Homo sapiens: one gene and its partners. The protein of the gene in region 1 interacts with the protein of each later gene in a biochemical or structural test. Each region holds a gene or a part of one and is shown in the gene's direction. Other genes may lie near its edges.

Evidence for each region.
Region 2: the proteins of SNCA (region 1) and ENSA form a complex in vitro, tested with the Homo sapiens proteins (2 studies listed by BioGRID, with this or other methods).
Region 3: the proteins of SNCA (region 1) and RAB3A form a complex in vitro, tested with the Homo sapiens proteins (one study listed by BioGRID).
Region 4: the proteins of SNCA (region 1) and DMTN form a complex in vitro, tested with the Homo sapiens proteins (one study listed by BioGRID).
Region 5: of the proteins of SNCA (region 1) and CTSD, one has a biochemical effect on the other in vitro, tested with the Homo sapiens proteins (one study listed by BioGRID).
Region 6: the proteins of SNCA (region 1) and TPPP form a complex in vitro, tested with the Homo sapiens proteins (one study listed by BioGRID and IntAct).
Region 7: the proteins of SNCA (region 1) and CACYBP form a complex in vitro, tested with the Homo sapiens proteins (one study listed by BioGRID).

The regions. Positions count from the first base shown.
Region 1 is NC_000004.12:89,729,162-89,732,661, reverse strand, and holds part of SNCA (alpha-synuclein), read left to right. Parts: intron 1-3,384; coding exon 3,385-3,468; intron 3,469-3,500. UniProt on the Homo sapiens protein: Neuronal protein that plays several roles in synaptic activity such as regulation of synaptic vesicle trafficking and subsequent neurotransmitter release.
Region 2 is NC_000001.11:150,624,119-150,626,612, reverse strand, and holds part of ENSA (alpha-endosulfine), read left to right. Parts: intron 1-86; coding exon of another isoform or gene 87-134; intron 135-804; coding exon 805-971; coding exon of another isoform or gene 972-975; exon of another isoform or gene 976-2,494. UniProt on the Homo sapiens protein: Protein phosphatase inhibitor that specifically inhibits protein phosphatase 2A (PP2A) during mitosis.
Region 3 is NC_000019.10:18,196,284-18,198,663, reverse strand, and holds the end of RAB3A (ras-related protein Rab-3A), read left to right. Parts: intron 1-1,003; coding exon 1,004-1,194; 3' UTR 1,195-1,880; downstream 1,881-2,380. UniProt on the Homo sapiens protein: The small GTPases Rab are key regulators of intracellular membrane trafficking, from the formation of transport vesicles to their fusion with membranes.
Region 4 is NC_000008.11:22,070,314-22,073,813, forward strand, and holds part of DMTN (dematin), read left to right. Parts: coding exon 1-21; intron 22-2,012; coding exon 2,013-2,137; intron 2,138-3,416; coding exon 3,417-3,500. UniProt on the Homo sapiens protein: Membrane-cytoskeleton-associated protein with F-actin-binding activity that induces F-actin bundles formation and stabilization. Its F-actin-bundling activity is reversibly regulated upon its phosphorylation by the cAMP-dependent protein kinase A (PKA).
Region 5 is NC_000011.10:1,757,428-1,760,927, reverse strand, and holds part of CTSD (cathepsin D preproprotein), read left to right. Parts: exon of another isoform or gene 1-580; intron 581-1,288; coding exon 1,289-1,412; intron 1,413-1,840; coding exon 1,841-1,959; intron 1,960-3,371; coding exon 3,372-3,500. UniProt on the Homo sapiens protein: Acid protease active in intracellular protein breakdown. Plays a role in APP processing following cleavage and activation by ADAM30 which leads to APP degradation.
Region 6 is NC_000005.10:676,353-679,852, reverse strand, and holds part of TPPP (tubulin polymerization-promoting protein), read left to right. Parts: exon of another isoform or gene 1-344; coding exon of another isoform or gene 345-541; intron 542-1,788; coding exon of another isoform or gene 1,789-1,792; coding exon 1,793-2,103; intron 2,104-3,236; exon of another isoform or gene 3,237-3,500.
Region 7 is NC_000001.11:175,002,947-175,006,446, forward strand, and holds part of CACYBP (calcyclin-binding protein), read left to right. Parts: intron 1-1,667; coding exon 1,668-1,887; intron 1,888-3,500. UniProt on the Homo sapiens protein: May be involved in calcium-dependent ubiquitination and subsequent proteasomal degradation of target proteins. Probably serves as a molecular bridge in ubiquitin E3 complexes. Participates in the ubiquitin-mediated degradation of beta-catenin (CTNNB1).

The DNA.
Region 1 (3,500 bases):
AACTGCAATATATCATCACACCTAAAGAAATAAACAATAATTCTTAAATATCAAGTCAGTGTTCAAATTTCCCCAACTACCTCATATGTGTTTTCCATTTGCTTATGTAGGGTTCCCAATGAGAATGAAATAAAGTTCTTAGGTTGCAATTGGCTAATGCTCTCTCACTTCTACTTTAAGCGGCAGGTTCCCACTAACTTCTTTTTAGTTGCAATTTACTTATTGAAATTAGACGTATTCTTTGTCTTGTGTAGTTTCTCACAGTGCAAAATTTGCTGATTGTAGCCACTGTTGTAAGCAATGAACATGTTTTTCACCACCTTATATTTGCTGTAAGTTGTCAGTGATAGTTAAATGTTAATCAAATTCAAATTCGGATCACGTAGGGCTTTTCTTTTTTTGTTTTCTTTTTCTATTTATATATTTATTTATTTATTTTGAGACGGAGTCTCACTCCGTCACCAGGCTGGAGTGCAATGGTGTGATCTGGGCTCACTGCAATCTCCACCTCCCGGGTTCAAGTGATTCCCCTGGCTCAGTCTCCCGAGTAGCTGGGACTATAGGAGAACCACCACGCCCGGCTAACTTTTTGTATTTTAGTAGAGATGGGGTTTCACCATGTTGGCCAGGATGCTATAGATCTCCTGACCTCACCGATCATGTAGGACTTCAATTGTCGAACAAACGAACCTTTAATAGCAGTTACACCATTAGGATGACCTGATCCAACATCGAGGTCGTAAACCCTATTGTCGATTTGGACTCTAGAATAGGATTGTGCTGTCATCCCTAGTGTAGCTTGTTCCCACTTGATGAAGTTATTGGATCAGTGAACAATAGCCCACTTAAACTAGTACAGTCTTAGTTTAAGATGGTGATGTGTATGTACTTCCATCAGAGGGCACATAATACAGTAAATCCTCACTTAACTTCATCAATAGTTTCTGGAAACTGTGACTTGAAGCAAAACAACATATAACAAAACCAGTTTTACCATTGGCTAATTGATATAAGCAAGAATTAAGTCCTATGGCAAATTTCTGGACACAAAAACACCATCAAACTCCTAAATAAAGATAAATCACTTCTGACATTAAACATTGAAATTAATGTGAGCTATATATACGTTTAAGAAAGATTAATACAAACAAGTCAAATAACTTACCTAATTATTTCGGTGGAGGCCGCAGGTGGTTGGAGCCTATCCTGGCAGCTCAGGGAGCAATATGGGAACCCACCCCGGACAGGACGCTGTTCCATTACTGCAGGGTGCTCTTGTACACACCCACTCACCCAGGCTGGAACCATGCAGACACACACACTCACCTAACCTACACATCTGTGTACATCCTTCAAAGTTCAGCCAAATAACATATAAACAAATCCAGTAATATCCATCAGTCTTAGTTCCGTCATAACAACTCCTTTTTGATCATCAAACAACAAACAGGGTAGGTCTGCCATATTTACTTGTCTGGTCCATATCAAAATTTTCTAACAAATTATATTAGAAAATCAAATCTCTGTCAGTTTCAAAATCATGGAAAAAAATTTGCCTTATTTCCCTTATACTTGGATATCCTAACAGTAATCTAAATATTAATGAGAAAGTTAATGATGTCGTTTCCTTCTCCCTGTTGTAAAGAAGGTTTTGCTGTCCCGTTTGATCACTAAGACTAATTGACACTCAGAAAAAGCATAGGAAACTTCTCAGCATCACAAAAGCTCTGTCATCTAGAGAAGCTAGGACTTGAGCTCAAGTCCTGTGACATGGAAGGCCTTGTGCCTAGCCATCCTGCAGCAGAGGCGTATCTACCAAGAAGTGAAACACTACGAAAACAGTATGTTTACTCCACATTTTAAAGTGAGGTAGTTTGGGGTGGTTCATATTTTATTTAATTTATATATTATTTGGATTTTTTTTAGTTTATAAAAAGGGCATTGGCAAGGGCAGAATGATCTGTAAGCTTCTCTGCCCACCTACCATAAGCATGATCTTTAGTGTGACCTTTTCTTACTGTTAGCCATTTTCTTATACTTCTGCGTCCCTGTCAGTCACTTCCATGTGAAGACATGGGGAAGCTTTTTTACATCAGACATGTTGTTGAAAATCAGCCGCGTTGGCTGAGGGATTATTTGATCTCTTTCTCCAAGTCCCTTTAGGCTCACATTGCCTCTCTGTTCTTTGAATTTTCACTTACCTTTATCTTCTTATAATTACTTTGCTGAAATAAATGCAAAGCAACAAAAGGTATTTAGTGAAGAATACCAACAAAGCCATGACCATTTCAGGCTGAGTTTTGTAGTATTCTTTGTCTAGGAAGAGATACCTAGAAAAATTTTCTGACCATGTATTTGATTATTTTCCTTCAATATGTATAGTCTCAGTCTTCAAATTTCAGAAAAGAATTTGTTTCTTCATTGTCATTTAAAATTAATGTGTTAAATATGTATGCTTTTACATTATAAGTGGTTATAAAAGTTAAACACTTAGAAAAAAAGTCAAAATAACATACATACTATCCAACAAAATAACTTTCATATTTTATTGTGTTTTCTTCCAAACTTTTTACCTTTGCGTCTGAATTCTGTGTAGGTTGTATCTATAATATAGACAACACTTTATAGCCTGCTAAATATTATACCATAAATAGGTAGTTGTTACATAATTCTCAGGTAATAGTAATACAGGTCTTTATCATAATCTACTGAGTAGTTGAATGATAATTTTTTTTAAGACAAGGTCTCCCTCTGTCACCCAGGCTAGAATGCAGTGGCATGCACATGGCTCACTGTAGCCTCTACCTCCCAGGCTCAAGTGATCCTCCTGCCTCAGCCTCCCAAGTGGCTGGGACTGTAGGCATGTGCCACCATGCCCAGCTATTTATTTGTATTTTTAGTAGAGATGGGGTTTCATTGTAACAGCCCAGGCTGGTCTTGAACTCCTGGACTCAAATGATCCACCTGCCTCAGCCTCCCAAAGTGCTGAAATCACAGGAGTGAACCACTGCACCCAGCAATAATTTTTTAACTCTTCATTATTCATTGAACATTTAGTTAACAATTCTAAAAATTTTGTTTCCTGCTGTCATTGATCTTGTGAAAAATATCTTTGGACTATAGCTGTGGATTATTTCCTAAATAGTAAATTACTTGAGCAAAAAGTTTACATACTTTGAGGGTTGATAACCCATGTTGCCGCAATGTTTCCCCGGAGGCATTGTGGAGTTTAGAATGCCAGTAGTAATATTAAGGTGTGCCATTTTCAAGATCCGTGGCCAACATCCCTATATGTAAGATTTTTCCAAAACATGGTTCTGATTTTTAAAAGTGAAAAATGCTACTTCATCATGTTCTTTTTGTGCTTCTTACTTTAAATATTAGAATGAAGAAGGAGCCCCACAGGAAGGAATTCTGGAAGATATGCCTGTGGATCCTGACAATGAGGCTTATGAAATGCCTTCTGAGGTAGGAGTCCAAGCTGAATCTTTCTAACAAGA
Region 2 (2,494 bases), on another chromosome or scaffold:
TGCACTCCAGCCTGGGCAACATAGCGAGGCTCCATCTCAAAAAAAAATTTTTTTATTTTCCTTACTCTCCTCTGCAATGACTGTAGGATTATAAATCATTACATTGGAGTGTGCTTCTCTGTGCGGATGAAATGGTGGGTGAAACATCCCTGTGGAGGATCCCAGTTATTGAGTCTTAGTCACAGATGATAATGTGATGCTGATTTGCATTTACCTTGCTGGAGGCAAGGCAGGCGTGGGCAGGCTGTCACAGTCATGGAACATGTGTGGGAGCTGTGAGAGTCAGAAGGAAAATACATTATCCTCATGAACAGGCCCAGTTTCTATTCCTGGTCTGGGAGAATAATCATTTTGAGGTTGTTGGCTTGTGGTTGATCTCCTGGTGGCTAGGATAGCCCCATATTTATCCTTCTCTATATCTTATTCATTTCTGTTTCTCCAGTTCCAGGCTATTGCCCTGTACCCAGTAAGGTCCTCAGTTACCCTTTATGAATAAGTGATTTTGGTGGAACGATCCTCTACTGAGTGGAGTACAAAGGATGGCAGGGGCTATCCCTTGACTCCAAAACTATATACTCTAGCTGGGAAATTGCTTATGTACCTGAAAAAGTCAGAACACACTGGGGAGAAGACATAAGTACATGTAATTAATGTTAAACTGTGTATGCATGAGGTTAATCAAGGAAGACTTCTTGAAAGATCCGAGTGTGCATGAGGGTTTATAATGGATGTGAGATGTGAGTCTCCTTGTTTTTGAGGAAGGCCAGAGTCCTCACTCACCTAAACCTCCCTCTTATCTCTTAGCAAAAGTACTTTGACTCAGGAGACTACAACATGGCCAAAGCCAAGATGAAGAATAAGCAGCTGCCAAGTGCAGGACCAGACAAGAACCTGGTGACTGGTGATCACATCCCCACCCCACAGGATCTGCCCCAGAGAAAGTCCTCGCTCGTCACCAGCAAGCTTGCGGGGTAACCTGAGCCCCCCTCTCCTCCCCTTCCTCAACCACTGGACGTTTATATATTATAGGCAGGGATGAAATGGGCACCTAGTCAGATCTTCTCAGCTTGCTAGCCAGAAATGACTGTGATTCTGCTGGGGGCTGCTGAGAAGGTAATGTAGGTTGAAAAGGGGCTCTAAGTTTATTTATTTCGTTAGATTGACACTTCCACACACTCCCTGTAGTCCAGGTAGGGCCCAGAAATAGGAAAGGCTAGGATTGGATAATGCTGCAAATGCTTTTTTTGTGTGAGAAACTGGAGAGATGTGATTTCTCCTTTTGGGAGAGAATGTCCCAAAATTGATTAGGCTGAGCCTTGGGAATAGTTTGGCAGGTTTAACATCCCAAGGCTAACCTAACGTAGTTGGGAAAGGTAGATTGAATGAGACATGTTTTCTGTGCTTCTAAGTGTTCTGTCCCTTAGGCTGCTATTGCTTCATGTTTCCATTATGGCAGGTTTAGAGAATCCTTAAAAAGAAAAATTGACTTGCTTGCCTAAAACTACAGTGCCCCCTTAGCCTCCATTACTTAGTATCTCTTACAGTTTGCTCTGGCTCTCAAATAATATAAAGATTGATGAACATTATTCACAGAAAATGGGCACCTTCTCTCTCTCTTCCAGCATGTTGCTTTTGAAAGTATCATGGGATAGTGGGACGAGCACTGGTTTAGGAGTCAAGATATCTGGGTTCTCACTCTACTCAGTCCCAGCAGAGCTGTTGTATAACCTTGATTAAGTCATTTAGCCTCTCTGGATTTCTATTTCCTCATCTGTAAAATAGAGTTAAATGTATGTAAGATTGATTCTGATTCTGAAGTCTTAACTGCCAGCAGAAAAACTCCATACTGTTCATTGTAAAACTAAAAGTGAGGAAGGCTCGTGGGTGGTGAACCTCTGCTCTGTAATACTGGGAAAGTACTACAGAGGGGAACCATTTGAGGGATACATGAGGAGAGAGTAAATTGAGGTTTGGGGATTATAAATTCAGGCAAGAGAACCTTATAGATATCACAGTCTTGAGGGTCAAAAAAAAATACTTAGGAAGCTAGCCATGGAAGCTTCTTGCCTCTGACCCAGCCCACTTTCCCAGCCTACCTCTGGGCCTTAGCTGCTAAAAAGCTTCTCTGGCAGCGGAGCTGCAGGCCTGAGGAAACATGCTCAGTCATGCACATGTGTTGACCCATGTTTCAGATGCAGTCTGATGCCAGGTATATTGTTAGGGAAAGAGGAAGAAGGGTAAACTGAGCTAGCCCCTGGGGCTGAGTACTCCTGCAGGGCTGGAGGAACAGGTTCTTAGAAGATGATTCACCTTGGAGGAAGCTGGGGAAAGTGGTTAGGGAGGGAGAGGAGGAAGACTGAGAAATCTCTGCATCCCCAGAACTCAGCAACCCAGCTCTTTTATCATGAGGAGAGGTAGCCATGCTGACTCATGAACAGGTGGAGGAAAGGGGTTGCAGGTGACCAGCATCTTCAATCTAGTTACCACCAGCTTG
Region 3 (2,380 bases), on another chromosome or scaffold:
GGCACACACCCAAGGTCTTACAGCTAAAGCCAGGTAATTCACACTTTCTGCAAACTAGCCTTCATCCAGGAGCCATTTGAGTTGGATCCTGAGGGATGTGTAGGAGTTTGCCATGCAGAAAGTTTAAGGATTTATTCTGACACTCACCGTCCAACGCTTTGTTGGGTGTTGCTGGGCTCAAGAGGCATCTAGGGGTGCCTCGAGGGACCCCTGAGGTAGAGGGAGGGACCTGGATGGGAGGAGCACATGAGAGGAGCCAGGCTTCCTGGAGTGGTGGGTAGTGAAGAAGGGTCTTTCAGGCAGAGGAAATAGCTTGGGCAAAGGCTTGCAGTGAGAAAGGTCCTGTGTGTTTTGGTAATAATTTCACAAGACTGGAACATGAGGGTCAGCTGGAGGAAATGTGGCCGATCACAGAGGGCCTCAACCATGTGCTGAGAGGCTGGGACTCTTTGGAGGGCAATAGGGAGTCACAGAGGGTGTGTGAGCAGGGGGAGGTCACAGCTGGATTTGAGTGTCAGAGCCTTCCAGGGCCAGTGCACGGGGCTGGGCTGGACGCTGCAGGGCATGTCTTGCCAGGTCCCTAAGGACAACGAGACACAATTTTAGGAAGGAAGGGCAGGAGGCCAGGTGCGCTGGCTCACACCTATAATCCCAGCAATTTGAGAGGTGGGGGTGGAGGATCACTTGAGCCCAGGAGGTCGAGACTGCAGTGAGCTATGATCACGCCACCATACTCCATCCTGGGCAGCAGAGCAAGGCCCTGTCTCAAAAAAAAAAAAAAAAAAAAAAAGCAGGAAATGCAAAGCTGACCCAGTTCCATGTTGCTTCTCTGTGGGATTTGTCAGTACCTTCAATAAGTTTCTTCTCTGTGGGATTTGTCAGTACCTTCAATAAGTTGCTTGGCACTGGGAATCTCCAGGTGTTCCCTTTCCTCAGAGAAGCATCTCTGGGAGTTGGCATAGGGCGTGGCCAGGGTCCTCATCCCTGCCTTCTCTGACCACAGGGTTCGAGTTCTTTGAGGCAAGCGCCAAGGACAACATTAACGTCAAGCAGACCTTTGAGCGCCTGGTGGATGTCATCTGCGAGAAGATGTCCGAGTCGTTGGACACGGCGGACCCTGCGGTCACAGGCGCCAAGCAGGGCCCACAGCTCAGTGACCAGCAGGTGCCACCGCACCAGGACTGCGCCTGCTGAGAGCCATCCCACTCCCTTTCCCCTCTTCCCTGTCTTCCCCACCTTCCCCCAACTACCCGGGCCTGACCCGGCCCCTACCAGCCACGGGCACAAGACCCCTGCTCCTGACTTAGCCCGTCACCCTTATTTATTATTGTAGCTATTTATTTATTTATTGAAGATGTCCCCCAGGGGCCCAGGCTCCCCTGCCCGCCCCAAGCCCTGCCCCTCCTGTACATATAGCCCTTTCCCCACTCAGCTGTGGTGTCTCGTGGCCCCGTGAACTCACCGCTCACCCTCCTGAACCCCCCCCCCCCGCCTTTTTTTAAAATTCACCCCCATCCACAGTTGTCAGTTGTGAAGAGGGGCCAGATGACACCCTAAAGCAGGCTGATCGGGCAATGGGAGGTGGCCAGGCCTGCCAGCCCCTCGGCTCTGCCGCGGTGGGCCGAGGCCGCTGTTGGGGGTTTCCCTGTGTGGACCATGGGGATCAGAGTCTGGCCTGCCAGGCTCCTCTCCCCGTTTTCTCTTTTGGTGGGGGGGTGTGCTGTGGGTATTCACCACCCTGGGACCCCCCCCCCCCCCGCCCACCAGACCTGTTCTGACCTCATGAGTGTCAAACGTGCCCCCCAGTTCCTTAGGAGATGTCATGACAACACTACACGCACCCAATAAAGCGAATGGACCATCCATGTGTGTCCCTGTGAGCACCGGGTCCTGCCCACCCTGGTTTTGATCATCCACAGCATTTTCTTTTGTTATTTTTATTTTTCAATATAAATAGAGACAGGGTCTTGCTATGTTGCCCAGGCTGGTCTCGAACACCTGGCCTCGAGCAATCCTTCCACCTCAGCCTCGGGAAGGGCTGAGATTACAGGTGGGAGCCACTGCGCCCAGCCAGCAGTTTCAGTTACATTATAGAGAGAGTTTAATGGCATTTCCACAGTTCAGGACCAGGGAAAGAAACACAGAGGCTGCCTGGCCCTATGTGAAACTTTTGGGGGCCGACTCCAGGCCTGAGCCTGCTCTGAGGGGATCAGTCATGTCCCCGCCTTAGTCCCAGGACCTGAGGGAGCTCTGGATTGGTGGCTTGGCCCAGAGCCAGGTGGATGGCAGTGTTGAGGGGCTGGTGCTTGAGACTGGTTGGCAGAGTGGGCCCTGTGCTGAGGATGGGACATCTTGGTCACAGGTCGCATGAGGTTCCTGC
Region 4 (3,500 bases), on another chromosome or scaffold:
CCCCGTCTCTGGCTGTTGTGGGTAGGAGAGATGGGGAGAGTGGAATGGGTGGTCTGGGAAACTCCTGCACTCCCTCCCCTTGGCTCTTGCTGCAGTCCGTGAACCCACTCCCACCCCTGCCCTATGGTGTCCTCGTGGGCTTTTTCCTACCTTCAGGAGCCCCCAGGCTCCTTGCTCACTCACTCTCTGTGTTCCCATAGCGCTTGGTGTAAGTGGCCCTTTTATTGGTCATTCATTTGCTTTCCATTCATTTATTTCCTGACTCAACAGACATGTATCAAACTTCTGCATCCCAGGCTCTGTGAGGGGAGCACTGGGAAAGAGAAAGATAAATGATAGATGGTTTGGTCCCCAGCGAATTTTATTTTAATTTTTATTTTTATCCATTTATGGGGTACAGGTGTAATTGGTTACCTGCATAGATTGCACAGTGGTGAAGTCAGGGTTTTTATGATATTGTTATCTGAATACTGCACGTTGTATCCATTAAGCAATTTCCCATCACCACCCCCCACACCCTTCTGAGTTGCCATGGTCCATCATCCCACTCTCTACATCCATGCGTACACACTATTAAGCTCCCACTCATGAGTGAGAACATGCAGTCTTTGTCTTTCTGTGTCTTGTTTGACTTAAGACAATGGCCTCCAGTTCCATTCATGTTGCTGCACCCACTGAATTTCAGTCATGAGTGTGTGTATGTGTGTGTTGCCTACCCAGCTTCATGGCAAGGTGAGAAAATGTTACTCTTATTTTATTGTATTTTTATTTTATTTATTTATTTATTTATTTATTTATTTGAGATGGAGTCTCACTCTGTTGCCCCAGGCTGTAGTGCAGTGGCACAATCTTAGCTCACCACAACCGCCACATCCCGAGTTCAAGCATTTCTCCTGCCTCAGCCTCCTGAGTAGCTGGGATTACAGGCATGCACCACCACACCTGGCTAATTTTTTGTATTTTTAGTAGATATGGGTTTTCATTATGTTGGCCAGGCTGATCTCAAACTCCTGACCTCCAGTGATCCACCCGCCTGTCTCCCAAACTGCTGGGATTACAGGCGTGAGCCACCATGCCTGACTCTCTTTTTAAATGTTGAGACAGGAAGTCTTGCTCTATTGCCCAGGCTGGAGTGCAGTGGCGAGATCTCGGCTCACTGCAACTTCTACCACCTGAGTTCAAGCGATTTTCCTGTTTCAGCCTCGCAAGTAGCTAGGATTACAGGTGCCCACCACCACACCTGGCTAATTTTTATATTTATATTTATATTTATTTATTTATTTGGAGACAGAGTCTCGCTCTGTCACCCAGGCTGGAGTGCAGAGGCCTAATCTTGGTTCACTGCAAGCTCCGCCTCCCGGGCTCACGCTATTCTCCTGCCTCAGCCTCCTGAGTAGCTGGGACTACAGGCGCCCGCCACCACGCCCAGCTAATTTTTTTGTATTTTTAATAGAGATGGGGTTTCACCATGTTCGCCAGGATTGTCTCGATCTCCTGACCTCGTGATCCGCCTGCCTTGGCCTCCCAAAGTGCTGGGATTACAGGCGTGAGTCCCCGCGCCCGGCCTATTTTTATTTTTAAATATTTATTTGTTTATTAAGACAGGATCTCACTCTGTTGCCCAGGATGGAGTGCAGTGACTCCATCACAGTTCACTGTAGCCTCGAATTACTGGGCTCAAGCAATCCACCTAGTTCAGTGTCCCCAGCAGCTGGGACTACAGGCATGCCCTACCACCCCGGGCTAATTTTTTAAAATAATTTTCTATAGAGACTATATTACCCCAGGCTGTTCTCAAATTCCTGGGCTCAAGCGATCCTCCCACCTCAGCCTCCCAATGTGTTGAGATTACAGGCATGAGTCATCTACCGACCCTACTTTATTTTTTAAAAAAATTTTGTAGTGGCCTTATCAAGGTCCAGCCCAGAGCAGTGCACAGAGGCTGTGCCATGTAAACACACACTGACCCCATGGCGAGTGACTCCCTCCCCACCTTTGCTTGTGTCTCCTAGAGACAGAATGGAGGAAGCGGAAGGCGTCTCGGAGGGGAGCAGAGGAAGAGGAGGAGGAGGAAGATGACGACTCTGGAGAGGAGATGAAGGCTCTCAGGGAGCGTCAGAGAGAGGAACTCAGTAAGGTAGCATCTCACCACCCCCACCCTCCACCCCTGTGCAGGAGTCTCGCTCTGTTGCCCAGGCTGGCATGCAGTGGCATGATCTCAGATCACTGCAACCTCCGCTCCCAGGTTCAAGTGATTCTCCTGCCTCAACCTCTTGCATAGCTGGGATTACAGGCACGCCACCACCTCGCCCAGCTAATTTTTTTTTTTTTTTGTATTTTTAATAGAGATAAGGTTTTGCCGTGTTGGCCAGGCTGGTCTCGAACTCCTGACCTCAAGCGATCCGCCCACCTCGGCCTCCCAAAGTGCTTGAATTACAGGCGTGAGCCACTATGCCCAGCCCACCCTGTGTGTCTTTCTGGGGACAGAAGTTCTGGCTCTGTAGCTAGTCGAAGGGGTTCCTACCCGAAAAGCATGCTTTTTGGAACATGTTGGGGAGCCGCTTCTTGCCAAGACCCCAGGATTTTGCTTTTGAAGGGACACCTGGACTTTATGCTGCTTTCTGGGGGACACTACTTGATATAAGGGTCAAAAGCACAGAAAAGGGTGGTCCCATCAGAGCTGGGAGCTAGCAGCCTGAGTGATCCATGGGAGGAGAGAAAAGGAGAGCATGGGCTACAGGCCTCCAGGGGAGGAGGGAGAACCATGGAAAGACCATTGACAGTGACATGGGCCTAGGCTCTGAGCAGGGTGACCTGGGACAAGGACAGGGAGGCCGCCGTGGTAGAGTTCTACCAAGCAGCGCTGACTCCTGGCTTTCAAGGGTGGCCAAACCCATTGTGGCCATGTGTCAGCCACGAACAAGAGGCTCTGTGAGCTCCAGGGCACAAACCAGCCACTTGGGAAATGTCCGCAGTCCTGCCTGCAGCATGGCCCAACTCTAGACCTTTTAGAGATAAGAAATGAGTATTGGCCCAGCACAGTGGCTCACACCTGTAATCCCAACACTTAGGGAGGCCGAGGCAGGAGGATCACTTGAGCCCAGGATTTTGAGACAAGGCTAGGCAACATGGTGAAACCCCATCTGTATATAAAAAAAAAACAATTAGCTAGCTGGGTGTGGTGGTGCATGCCTGTGGTCCCAGCTCCTCAGGAGGCTGAGGAGGTTGGATTGCTTGAGCCCAGGAGGTCAAGGTTGCAGTGAGCCATGTTTGTGCCACTGAACTCCAGCCTGGGTGACAGAGTGAGACCCTGTCTCAAAAAAAAAAAAAAAAAAAAAAGAAAGAAAAAAAAAAAGAGAAAAAAGAAACATTCAAGTGTCTAAGTCTTGGCTCCATCTTCCTTTCTCCCTCCTCAGGTTACTTCCAACTTGGGAAAGATGATCTTGAAAGAAGAGATGGAAAAGTCATTGCCGATCCGAAGGAAAACCCGCTCTCTGCCT
Region 5 (3,500 bases), on another chromosome or scaffold:
TCCTCTCGCAACAGCCCCTCCTGTGCCCACTACTCCTTCAGGGGGAAGCAGGATCCAAGGTGGAGCACTCTGGAAGCCACCTAGCAAGCTGGGGCTTGGTCAGCCTGGTCCCAGCTCTATGGGGTCAGTTCGAGGCCAGGGCCTACTGTCCAGCCTCGGGGCTCTGGCCCACTGTGGGGGAGCCTTGCCCTCTGTCCTGCTTGGCCCGAGTCCTGGCTGTGACAGGAAGCCCAAGACTCACAGGCATGTGACTGGGCCAGGGGGGCCCTGGGGGGAACCAGGCGCCGTGTGCCTGGTCCCGACTGGCCAGTTCCTGATTGTCCTAGCGCGCGAGCAAGCAGATGCACGCATGCGCACACATGCACACACACACATGGAAATTTGCTGAGTGTCCCCCTGCCAGTGGTCACTTCTGTGGGGCCATGAGTCAGCAGCTGCTGCTGCTCCGTGAAGCCAGGCGGTTGGAGAAACATTGGGCTGGGCTGGTGCCAGGAATCTGGTGGCTGACGGTGGCCCAGGCTCCAATCCTGGGGGAAGCGGGCGCCCAGGCGACCCCAAACTCCAGGACCCTCTTACTCTCTGCCTCCTGAGAGGCTCGGCGGCATGGGACCCCTTGTACTTGCCTGATCCCTGAGTCAGCACCCCCACCTGCGCCTGCTATCCCTGTGTACACACGGGGAAACTGAGGCCCTGGGCCATTAAGGCAGGGTTGCTGGGCAGGCAGTGATTGTAAGGCTTACCTTCTCCCCTTGACCAGCTGAACCCCTCTGCCTGGAAGCCCTCCAAGCCTGGGGTTCACCCTGGAGGGCAGGGCAGGCACTGAGACACCCAGAATCAGACCTTGACATGGCCCCAACCTGGGGAGGAAGTCACTTCCTTTCTCAGACCTTGGACTGCGGGCCACCAGGGGAGTCTTCCAGGCCGGGCTTTCCTGCACCCGGGGCTCAGGCTGAGGGCCACGTCTGTCCCCACCCTGGCTTGACCTCTGGCCTTGTCTTTTCCGTGGGGAAGTCCTCAGCCTCACCATGTATTGAGCAGGGGTAGGTGACAGAAGCCAGGGGTCTAGAGACCCCAAGTACCCGTGGGCATTAGGACCGAGGGCTGGGGACCTGGCCCATCTTCCCTGCAGGCTGAGCAGGTGGGAGTGGGTGGCTGTTGGCAGCTGTGGGCCCCGTGATGCCCCTCCCTCCAGTATGGGCCTTGGCTCTGGGGACAGCCGGGCCTTCTGAGGCCCAGTGGGGAGATGGGGCCCCCTCTCCCATCCCTGACGGACCCTGTCCCCTGCCAGGCCCAGTACTACGGGGAGATTGGCATCGGGACGCCCCCCCAGTGCTTCACAGTCGTCTTCGACACGGGCTCCTCCAACCTGTGGGTCCCCTCCATCCACTGCAAACTGCTGGACATCGCTTGCTGTGAGTCACGAACCCTGGCCCCGTCGCCCAGGTCCTGCCCTTCCGGGATGTCGCTGCAGGGCTGCCTCAGGAATCACTTGGGCAACGCAATTCTCCTGCCTCTTGGCCCCGTGAGCCAGGCCAGCCCTCCACCCTGCTCCAGCCACTGACTTTCTGGGTGAACCACCAGCTGTGGTCTTGCTCTCAGCAGGGCTGGGGCTGGGGTGGCCACAGAGGGAGCCGGCTGTGGCTGGGAGGGAGGCCCGGGGTCACAGCCCACAGTCCCGGGGCTCTGGCATGATGGTGGGCCTCAGATCCCCTCCAAATCCCACCCTGGGGAGGCAGCTTGGGGGGTGCGGGCTCCATGGTAGATTGTAGGGGGATGGGAGGGCTAAGGCCGTGGCGTGGGCTGCGGGATGACCGGCGGGCCCCCTTGTCGCCCGGGGCAGGGATCCACCACAAGTACAACAGCGACAAGTCCAGCACCTACGTGAAGAATGGTACCTCGTTTGACATCCACTATGGCTCGGGCAGCCTCTCCGGGTACCTGAGCCAGGACACTGTGTCGGTGAGTCCCTCTGGGGCCTTTCCCAGGACTCGAGGGTGCCAGGGTGTGGGGTTCACCCACCGTGGGTATGTGGTTGAAAGGGAGGGCTCGGTGATCCCAGCCCAACCCCAGCCCTCAGGTGGCCGGGGCAGTCAGCAGGGTGAGGAGGGGTCTGGGAATGGGCCTGGTTGTGTGCAGGCTGGAGGGACAGCCTCAAACCCAGGGGGTACAGGGGCAGGGGTCCCCGGAGTCAGGCCACAATGAGTGGGAGGGAGGACAGGGCAGATCGATCGGGCTCTTTTTGGCACATTGGGTTTGAGGTGCCAGCAGGTGTTGAGGGCTGGACCTGGGGCTGCACAGGGTCCCTGCAGCAGGCCGAGGGCTTGGGGAGGCTTGGGGTTGGGAGGATGTACCAGGAACCCGCTGTGGGGGCTGCTGGCGGAGAGTCACCGGCAGGAGCCTGGGAGGGCAAGGGAGGGGGAGCAGCAGTGGCTGTTGGGGGCCCCGCCTGCATCCACCATCCTCAGGGCCCTGTGCAGAGCAACTCCCTGCCCTAGGAGAGGGTGAGCTGGCCCTTGTCACCCTGCCTGGGCCTCAGTGAGTTCTCACCTCGGAGCTGTCTGCTGGGGGTGGACCAGGCCACAAGGGGTTCAGGAGTTACGGGATGGTGACACAGCCCCCAGCTCTGGAGCGGGCCAGGAGGGCAGCAGAGCCCCCCTGCAGGCCCAGGGACCCGGGAAGAGGGCCCCTTCCTCCAGCTGAAGCTGCTCCTAACAGTTCCCTGCTGGGCTGGAGTCCAGTCTGTACTGGGGGCTCCTCAGAGCCCTCCTGTCTGGACCCTGCTCAGCCTGAACAGGAAATTGCCCCGTCTGCCCTCTTCCGCCCTCTTCTGCCCCCTCCGCCCCGTGTCAGCCTCAAGCTGTCGTTCCCTTCCCACATCCTGCTCTGGCCGTGTTCTCTCTCTGCAGCCTCATCCAGGGCTGGGGGAGGGGACAGGCAGAGAAGGGGAAGGGGGCAGTATGGCTGTGAGCTTGGGATGGGGTCGGCAGGTTCCCCATCTCTCGGGCTCCTGGCCCAGGCTGTGTCTTGTTCCCAGCGCTGAGGGCAGGAGCAGGACCTGCCTGTCATTGGTGGTGGGAGTAAGAGGTCGGAGCAGGGAGCGGAGCAAGGGGCCTGCCCGTCTGTGCTCCTGCCTGGTTCCCATCTCGTGTAAACCGAGCCCTGATGACTTCCACGAAGAGGGCCCCGCCATACCCCGTGTCCCCATCCCCAGCGGTGTTCAGCTCAGGGTTTCCAGCCCTTTCTTCTGGGCCCTCTGGGCCCCATCGTGTGTGGGATGGGCATCCATTGAACTGGGTTTTGTAGCCTCATGCTCAGGGAGTGGTGTAGGGCTCAGCCTGTCTGCTGCCCACTGACTCTGCCCTGGCCTGCAGGTGCCCTGCCAGTCAGCGTCGTCAGCCTCTGCCCTGGGCGGTGTCAAAGTGGAGAGGCAGGTCTTTGGGGAGGCCACCAAGCAGCCAGGCATCACCTTCATCGCAGCCAAGTTCGATGGCATCCTGGGC
Region 6 (3,500 bases), on another chromosome or scaffold:
GAGCCCTGAAGGTGGCTCTGAGGGGCTTCCCTCATCCCTTTGCTCCCAGGCGGGCCCCACGGGGTGCAGGTTCTCAGATGACTCTCTGAGGTGTGTGAATAAGGGTCTCTGTTCAGGCGCGTCCCCACAGGAGATGAGACCACAGAACGCAGCCCTGAGTTTGAAGCATCCCAGAAGGTTCTTTCTCTCTGACCCGCACACCCACCACTGTTCTGGGTGCTCACAAAACCCACCATTGCTTCTGGTAATTTCTCAGCTGCTCCTCCTGTCCAGCGACCCCTGCTGCAGAGGCCCAGGGGAAACACAGACCAGGCCTGTGAGAAGCTCCTGTTTCAGACAAAGAAATGGTGTCAGCGATAAAACTGGAAACTGTTCCCAGCTCGACACCTGACCTGGCCCTTCCACCCCCAGGATCCTGCCCCCAGGCGGCCCTTCCACCCCCAGGATCCTGCCCCCACGCGGCCCAGCCCCCACCAGGATCCTGCCCCTGCATCCTCCGCTGGGTTGGCATCTGCATTTTTGGTGCCTTCCAGGGAAAGGGGTGAGTGGGTGGGGCCTGAGGCCCTTAAGGTCCTCAGTGGAGGGAGTGCCCCTGGATTTTTTTCTGGCTGTTTTGGGGGAATTTGTGGGATCTCAGGGTCAGCAGCGGCCACACTCAGGACCCCACGATTACAGAGCCACACTTTGGCCATGACTGGCGCTGAGAACTCCAGATCTGAGAGGGCTTCGTGAGTCCCAGGGTTGGGACACCTACCTGTGTCCTCGGCACGGACCCTCCCACCGGCTCTTGTGTCTGTGGGCAGAGGCCATGTTCAGCTCTCAGTGCAGTGCTGACGGCCCACCTGGTGTCCAGGCCCCTTTGGGAAGCAGCTTTCATGCCCTGAGTCCAGCACCTCAGCCTTGAGTCCTTCAGGGCCTGACTGGGTCTTACCGAAGCCCATGCATGGTAGGGAGGTGGCCTCGGCAGCCCTGCCCTGTGGCGTAGCCCTGCGTCCCCAAGCCCTGCCTGGGTGGCACCCCTCAGTCTTCTCAACCCCATGGCCCAGCCGCCTACTCTGGGGGCGGGCGCCTTGCAAAGTCCAGAGGGCGTCCCTGCGCCCTGACACCGGTGCCCCCACCACTGCCTCAGCCCTGCACACTGGCAGTCCCCTCCCCTGGCCGGGGCCAGGCCCAGGGCTCCTGGGAAGAGCATCCTGAGGCGCCCCCAGGGCCACCACGCACCCTCCCCAGCCTAAAGCTCCATCTAAGGTCAGAGGCTCTGCAGTGGGGAGGGAGCGGCTGTCGCACGACTGCTGTGGACCCTCCCAGAGGAAGGCAGCACGTCACAGACCCTGGGGAGTGCGTGATCCCGAGGTGTCCTCCAGAGCTGCAGAGCGGGCGTCCACAGGAGGGACAGTGGAACTGCGGCGGGGAGGGGACCCGGAATAGGCTCTGATGCTGCCAGTCACACACTGAGCCTCCTAGGCCTGGAGCCCCTGGCACCCAGCTCAGCTCCCACCCTGGGCTCTGCGTGCTGCTGGCTTTATTTGGCTTAGGGGGTCCTTGGCCCAATGATGGCAGTGGGCAAGGCCTCGCTTGGCTCCACTCTGCCCGGGGCTGGACATGCGTGCCTGCGGGGCAGCTGGCTCCAAGGGTCTGAGGGGCCTCACGCCCAGCCCCAGGAGGGCCTGCCCATCTCAGCCCTCGCCACGTCCTGGTGCTCATTGGTACGGCGGGGTTTCCTGGGCTGCACCCGGCTCAGCTGGGACATGGCCCGGGTGACACCTTTCTCCTCTCCTTCCTCCATAGCAACATGGCTGACAAGGCCAAGCCTGCCAAAGCTGCCAACAGGACGCCCCCCAAGTCCCCGGGGGACCCCTCGAAGGACCGGGCAGCCAAGAGGCTGTCGCTGGAATCGGAGGGTGCTGGTGAGGGGGCAGCCGCATCCCCTGAGCTCAGTGCCCTGGAGGAGGCCTTCCGGCGCTTTGCCGTGCACGGGGACGCCAGGGCCACCGGGAGGGAGATGCACGGCAAGAACTGGTCGAAGCTGTGCAAGGACTGCCAGGTGATCGACGGCAGGAACGTGACCGTCACTGACGTGGACATCGTCTTCAGCAAGATCAAGTGAGTGCGCTGGGCTCACGGGCCGAGGGACCTGACTTACGGGGGTCTGCGGCCCTGAGCCCCTGGGTGGGTTCTGTGGGGAGCGGGCCATGGGGAGTGGAGGGGGTTGTGCTTCAAGACCCCGCCCTTCTCAGAAGCAGCCCTGACATGGGAGCCTGAACGTGCCATCTGGGCCCCCAGGGAGCAGGGGTCCGGGCATTGCCGGACTTCTCGGTGCCGAGGCCTGAGTGGCAGCCCTGGCTCCTCTCAGCCCCGTGGGTGTGTAGGGTTTCGGCATGGGAGGTGGCCTATGAGGGGATGTCTGGCCTCAGAGCAGACTCGGGGTGAATGCTGCTCCCCGGAGTCAGGGAGCTGTGACTGGGATCACTGGGCTTCCCCAGGAGTGGGGGCAGTGGCTGCCTGGAGCCTGGAGGGGCAGGTGGCTGCTGGCGGGCAGAGCTCCTGACCCTCTGTGGGCTGGCTCAGCGGCTGAGTCTCAGAGGTTGGATGCTTGTGTCCCCATGCATGGAGCTGGCCATTCGGGTGTCCCCCAGCCCCTCCCAAAGCCTTTGTGCTGCTGTATTTCTGCCCCAGGATTCCCACGGGCGGCAAAATGGCAAAGGGCACCAAGGAGGCGGCTCCGGCCACCACCTTGAAACCGCATCGTGCCGTTTGCTTTTTCTGCGTCGTGTGCACGTGTGCGCGTTTCTGTGTGCACGTGTGTGCGTTTCCGCGTCGTGTGTGCACGTGTGCGCGTTTCTGCGTGTGCACGTGTGCGCGTTTCTGCGTCGTGTGTGCGTTTCTGTGTGCACGTGTGCGCGTTTCTGCGTCGTGTGCGCGCGTGCGTTTCTGCGTCGTGTATGCGCGCGTGCGCGTTTCTGCGTCGTGTGTGCATGTTTCTGCGTCGTGTGTGCGCGTTTCTGTGTCGTGTGTGCACGTGTGCGCATGTGTGCATGTGTTTCTGCATGTGCACGTGCGTTTCTGTGTCATGTGTGCACACGTCTGTTGCCGTGTCACGCATTGTCTGTTTTCTCCTGGATGAATGCTGGGAAGCACACTGAGGCACCCTCACACGCCCCAGCACATTTCACCTCATGTCCCGACACCCCACCATGATCGCACCCGAGAAAAGCAGCGGTTCTCCCTGAGCCCCGTCCTGTCCGCCTGTGTGGCAATGGCTTTATTTCGGTGGTTTGCACCTGCGTCCTCCTGTGGCCGATGTATTTCATTCCTACATTGCCGCAAACTCATCACCTCTTTCATCTCAGAGCTCCTGCACCTTCCCCCTCTGCGGCCTTGGCTTTGCAAGGGGCCGGGCCGTGGGTCAGATGCCCCTGTGTGGAAGGCTGTGGGGCCCACCTCTGCGGCGCCAGCGCCCCATCTACCAGCTCTGGGTGGGCGCCGTGACCTTTGCAGCT
Region 7 (3,500 bases), on another chromosome or scaffold:
AGGAGTTGTAGAATCAGCGTTTTTTTGAAACCATTACAATAAAAATATTACTTTGAACTGAAACATTTTGGTTCTATGCTCAAAAGATGAGTTTGCAAGATTTTTTGTCATAGTAATATGAGCTGTTCTTGGAAGGGTCGAGAGTGTGGACAAGAGGGTTGGGCAGAGTTGATTTTTTTTTTTTTTTGGGAGACCGAGTTTTGCTCTTGTTGCCCGGGCTGGAGTGCAATGGCGCGATCTCGGGTCACTGCAACCTTTGCCTCCCGGGTTCAAGCGATTCTTCTGCCTCAGCTTCCCGAGTAGCTGGGATTACAGGCACGTGCCACCACACCCGGCAAATTTTTGAATTTTAAGTAGAGACGGGCTTTCGCCGTGTTGGTCATGTTGGTCTCGAACCCCTAACCTCAAGTGATCCACCCGCTTTGGCCTCCCAAAGTACTGGGATTACAGGTGTGAGCCACTGCACCTGGCCAGAGTTGAACTTTTTATACCATGTCATCTGTTATAGATAGGCAAAACTAGGGCATCTGAGTTAAATGAGATAACAAAAGACTTGTAGTAAAAGAAAAGAATTAGTTCTGTTATTGCATTTTATAAGACTATTAAGAAACAGGCTTTCAAACTCTGTTGTGCGTCTGATATTCTGAGTTATAAAGCACTAAAAGACTTTTTTAAATTGAGCTTTTGATATCAAGCTGTGACACAAGATTTTTTTGGTCAAGTTGGTAGTGTCAAGCCAGAGTGTAAAGTTATTGTAAGAAAAGTGAAACAGCTGTTTGGAAAGATCTTGTGTATTTGCAGTATGTCAGAGGGTAATTGGGGGAAAAAAAACTTAGGCTCAATAATTTTCTAACATTGTCTTTAACTCTTGAATTTCATAAAATGTTGCCTCTATCTCTAGAAAGTAGAAAGTAGTAGACTTTAATAGATGATGGATTGGCAAGAGAAGAAAATGAGAACGTGGTGGCTTTTTCAAAAGATAATTTCCAAGAGTATGTTGCATTTTCGGTCTTTTGTCACCTTCTGTGCAACCAACTCCTACACTTCTGAGTGTAAGACTGACCCAGCTTCAGAGCAAGACTTTTCCTCAAAAGCAGAAATTTTTTTTTTTATCTTTTGTCTTAAAAATTAAGACTTTTTTTATGTGAGGTATTTGAGGTGGGAAGATAATGAAGACCAATCAGTGACAGAAAGTGGAGCATTCATTACCTCAGTTAAGTTTGCTATAAAAGCATTTTACCATGGTCACTGCATGTTCTCTCATCTCTTAAATATTTTAAAAGTGTCTAACATCTAATGACACTCGGATTAGATGTTACAAGGAAATCTATGAATCCTTTGTCAAAAAAAAGTTCTTTGTTTTACTTTTTAGGTCGCAGACGTTTCTTGTAAATATTTTAAAACATAAACTGGAAAATTTAGGTTTGAAGACCTATTTATTGTTTGTTCAAGATTGTTCAAAGTTTTCCTTTTGAAAAAAAGGAAGCTTGAGTTAATTACAGTTAATAAGCCAGATGGAAGAATTGAAGTTGCAACTCAATCCTAGAAAATTTAGATGAACTTCTTAATTCTTAGTGCTTATTTCAGTAAGTTGAAATGAGTGATACGCACAATATCAAGCCATTTCCTTATTTATCATAGCTAACTTATTTTTTGTCTTAACACAGCTACAGAAAGATCTAGAAGAGGTAAAGGTGTTGCTGGAAAAGGCTACTAGGAAAAGAGTACGTGATGCCCTTACAGCTGAAAAATCCAAGATTGAGACAGAAATCAAGAACAAGATGCAACAGAAATCACAGAAGAAAGCAGAACTTCTTGATAATGAAAAACCAGCTGCTGTGGTTGCTCCCATTACAACGGGCTATACGGTGAAAATCAGTAATTATGGTATGACTTGCTTCCCTATAGCCAGTTCTGCCTCCGAGCAACCTATTCCTCATAGTGGTCTAACAAATTCATCCCCAATGAGTTTTGAGTCTGTGTTTTTGGTGGTTTGGAGCAAGACCCATCAGTTTTTATTTAATAAAACTTTTTTAAGATATAAATAGGAAAGGATGCGTTCTAGAAGCTGTTAACAAGAGTAAGGTGATTCACTACAAAATGTAACAACAAGGAAGGAACTTATTCTGAAATTGTTCAGTATAAGACACAGCTTTGGTGGTGGTGGTGGTGGTGGTGGTTTTTAATCATGTTTTATGTTTCACTCTGCCAACCACCACAATTAACTGAGGAGAGGAATCCAGTTAAATTCAGGAAATATTTTTGAGCACCTAATGTGTATCACTATTGTGCTTTGACTTACGGATACACAACAGTGACTAAGACCCAGTCCTTGCTCATGTTGTGGTTGGGACATTGACGTATAACTCGTAGTATAACAATGTAGTAATACTGTTTTCCTTCAATGGTGTATACAGTTTTTTGTTTTGGCGGCAGCGCAACTTGAATATGAATGATGAGCTCTCATTGGAGCAAGGACAGTCTTGTTTTTCTTTGTGCTAATAATGTCTAGCACATAATAGGTAACATAGCTGAAGAAATAATTCTGGAGGTGAGGAACAGGGAGAATTAGAGAGATTTGAGTGTGAAGGGTGAGTCGTACATTCAGCAAGTCAAAAAGGAGGGGAACAGCATGAGCAGAGAATGTGAATAGAGAGTTGGAAGGCATGATCTATTTTGAATATTGTTAATAGTGAAAAGCATGTGTATGTCGTGCTTAAGAGATGTACTATATAGTAATATAGGAAATTGCACCGTGTACTCAGTTGAGTATAGGAAACTGGTCTGAAGGTGTTGAGGATTATGGTATTTTAACCAGGAACATAGATTTGTGTTGAGGGAGAAACTTGTCAATCCGGAGGATGGACTGACTGAATGGGAAGAAACTATTAATAAATGAAGTTCTCTGGACCCCACTAGGGCATTTTTTCATCAACACTGTTTCTTTTTAATTTTCGAGGGTACATAGTAGGTGTATATATTTATGGGGTACATGAGATGTTTGATATAGGCATGCAATGTGAAAAACGTCATGGAGGATGGGGCATGTTTCTATTCTATAGGACTAAGTGAGCAATAGTCAGGGATATGTATGTATATATTCTTGATAAACAGAAGATGCTTTTTTGTGAAGTTTTTTATTTTCTACAAATGTGATGGTATTTTGTGAAGTATTTATATATATGTCTTTTATGTTGACAGAGTTCTTCTAGGTCAGAGACGTGCTGGTAGTTTGATAATACATACTGAAATGGCATTTAACAGATACCAGTAGGTTTGTCAGATTTGGATGAAGAATTGGAGTCTTTTACATTCTACTTTGCCCTGGAAAGGAATTAAGAGAGCTAGGATTCCATTTGTTTGACTACTTACAGAAGTAGAAATGGTTATGGAATTAGTATTGATACTTAGCCATCCAGCTTAGTGGAGAACTACCAATATTTAGATGTCGGACAAAATTGTTTCCATAAAAGCTGTAAATGAACTAATCTTAAAGAATG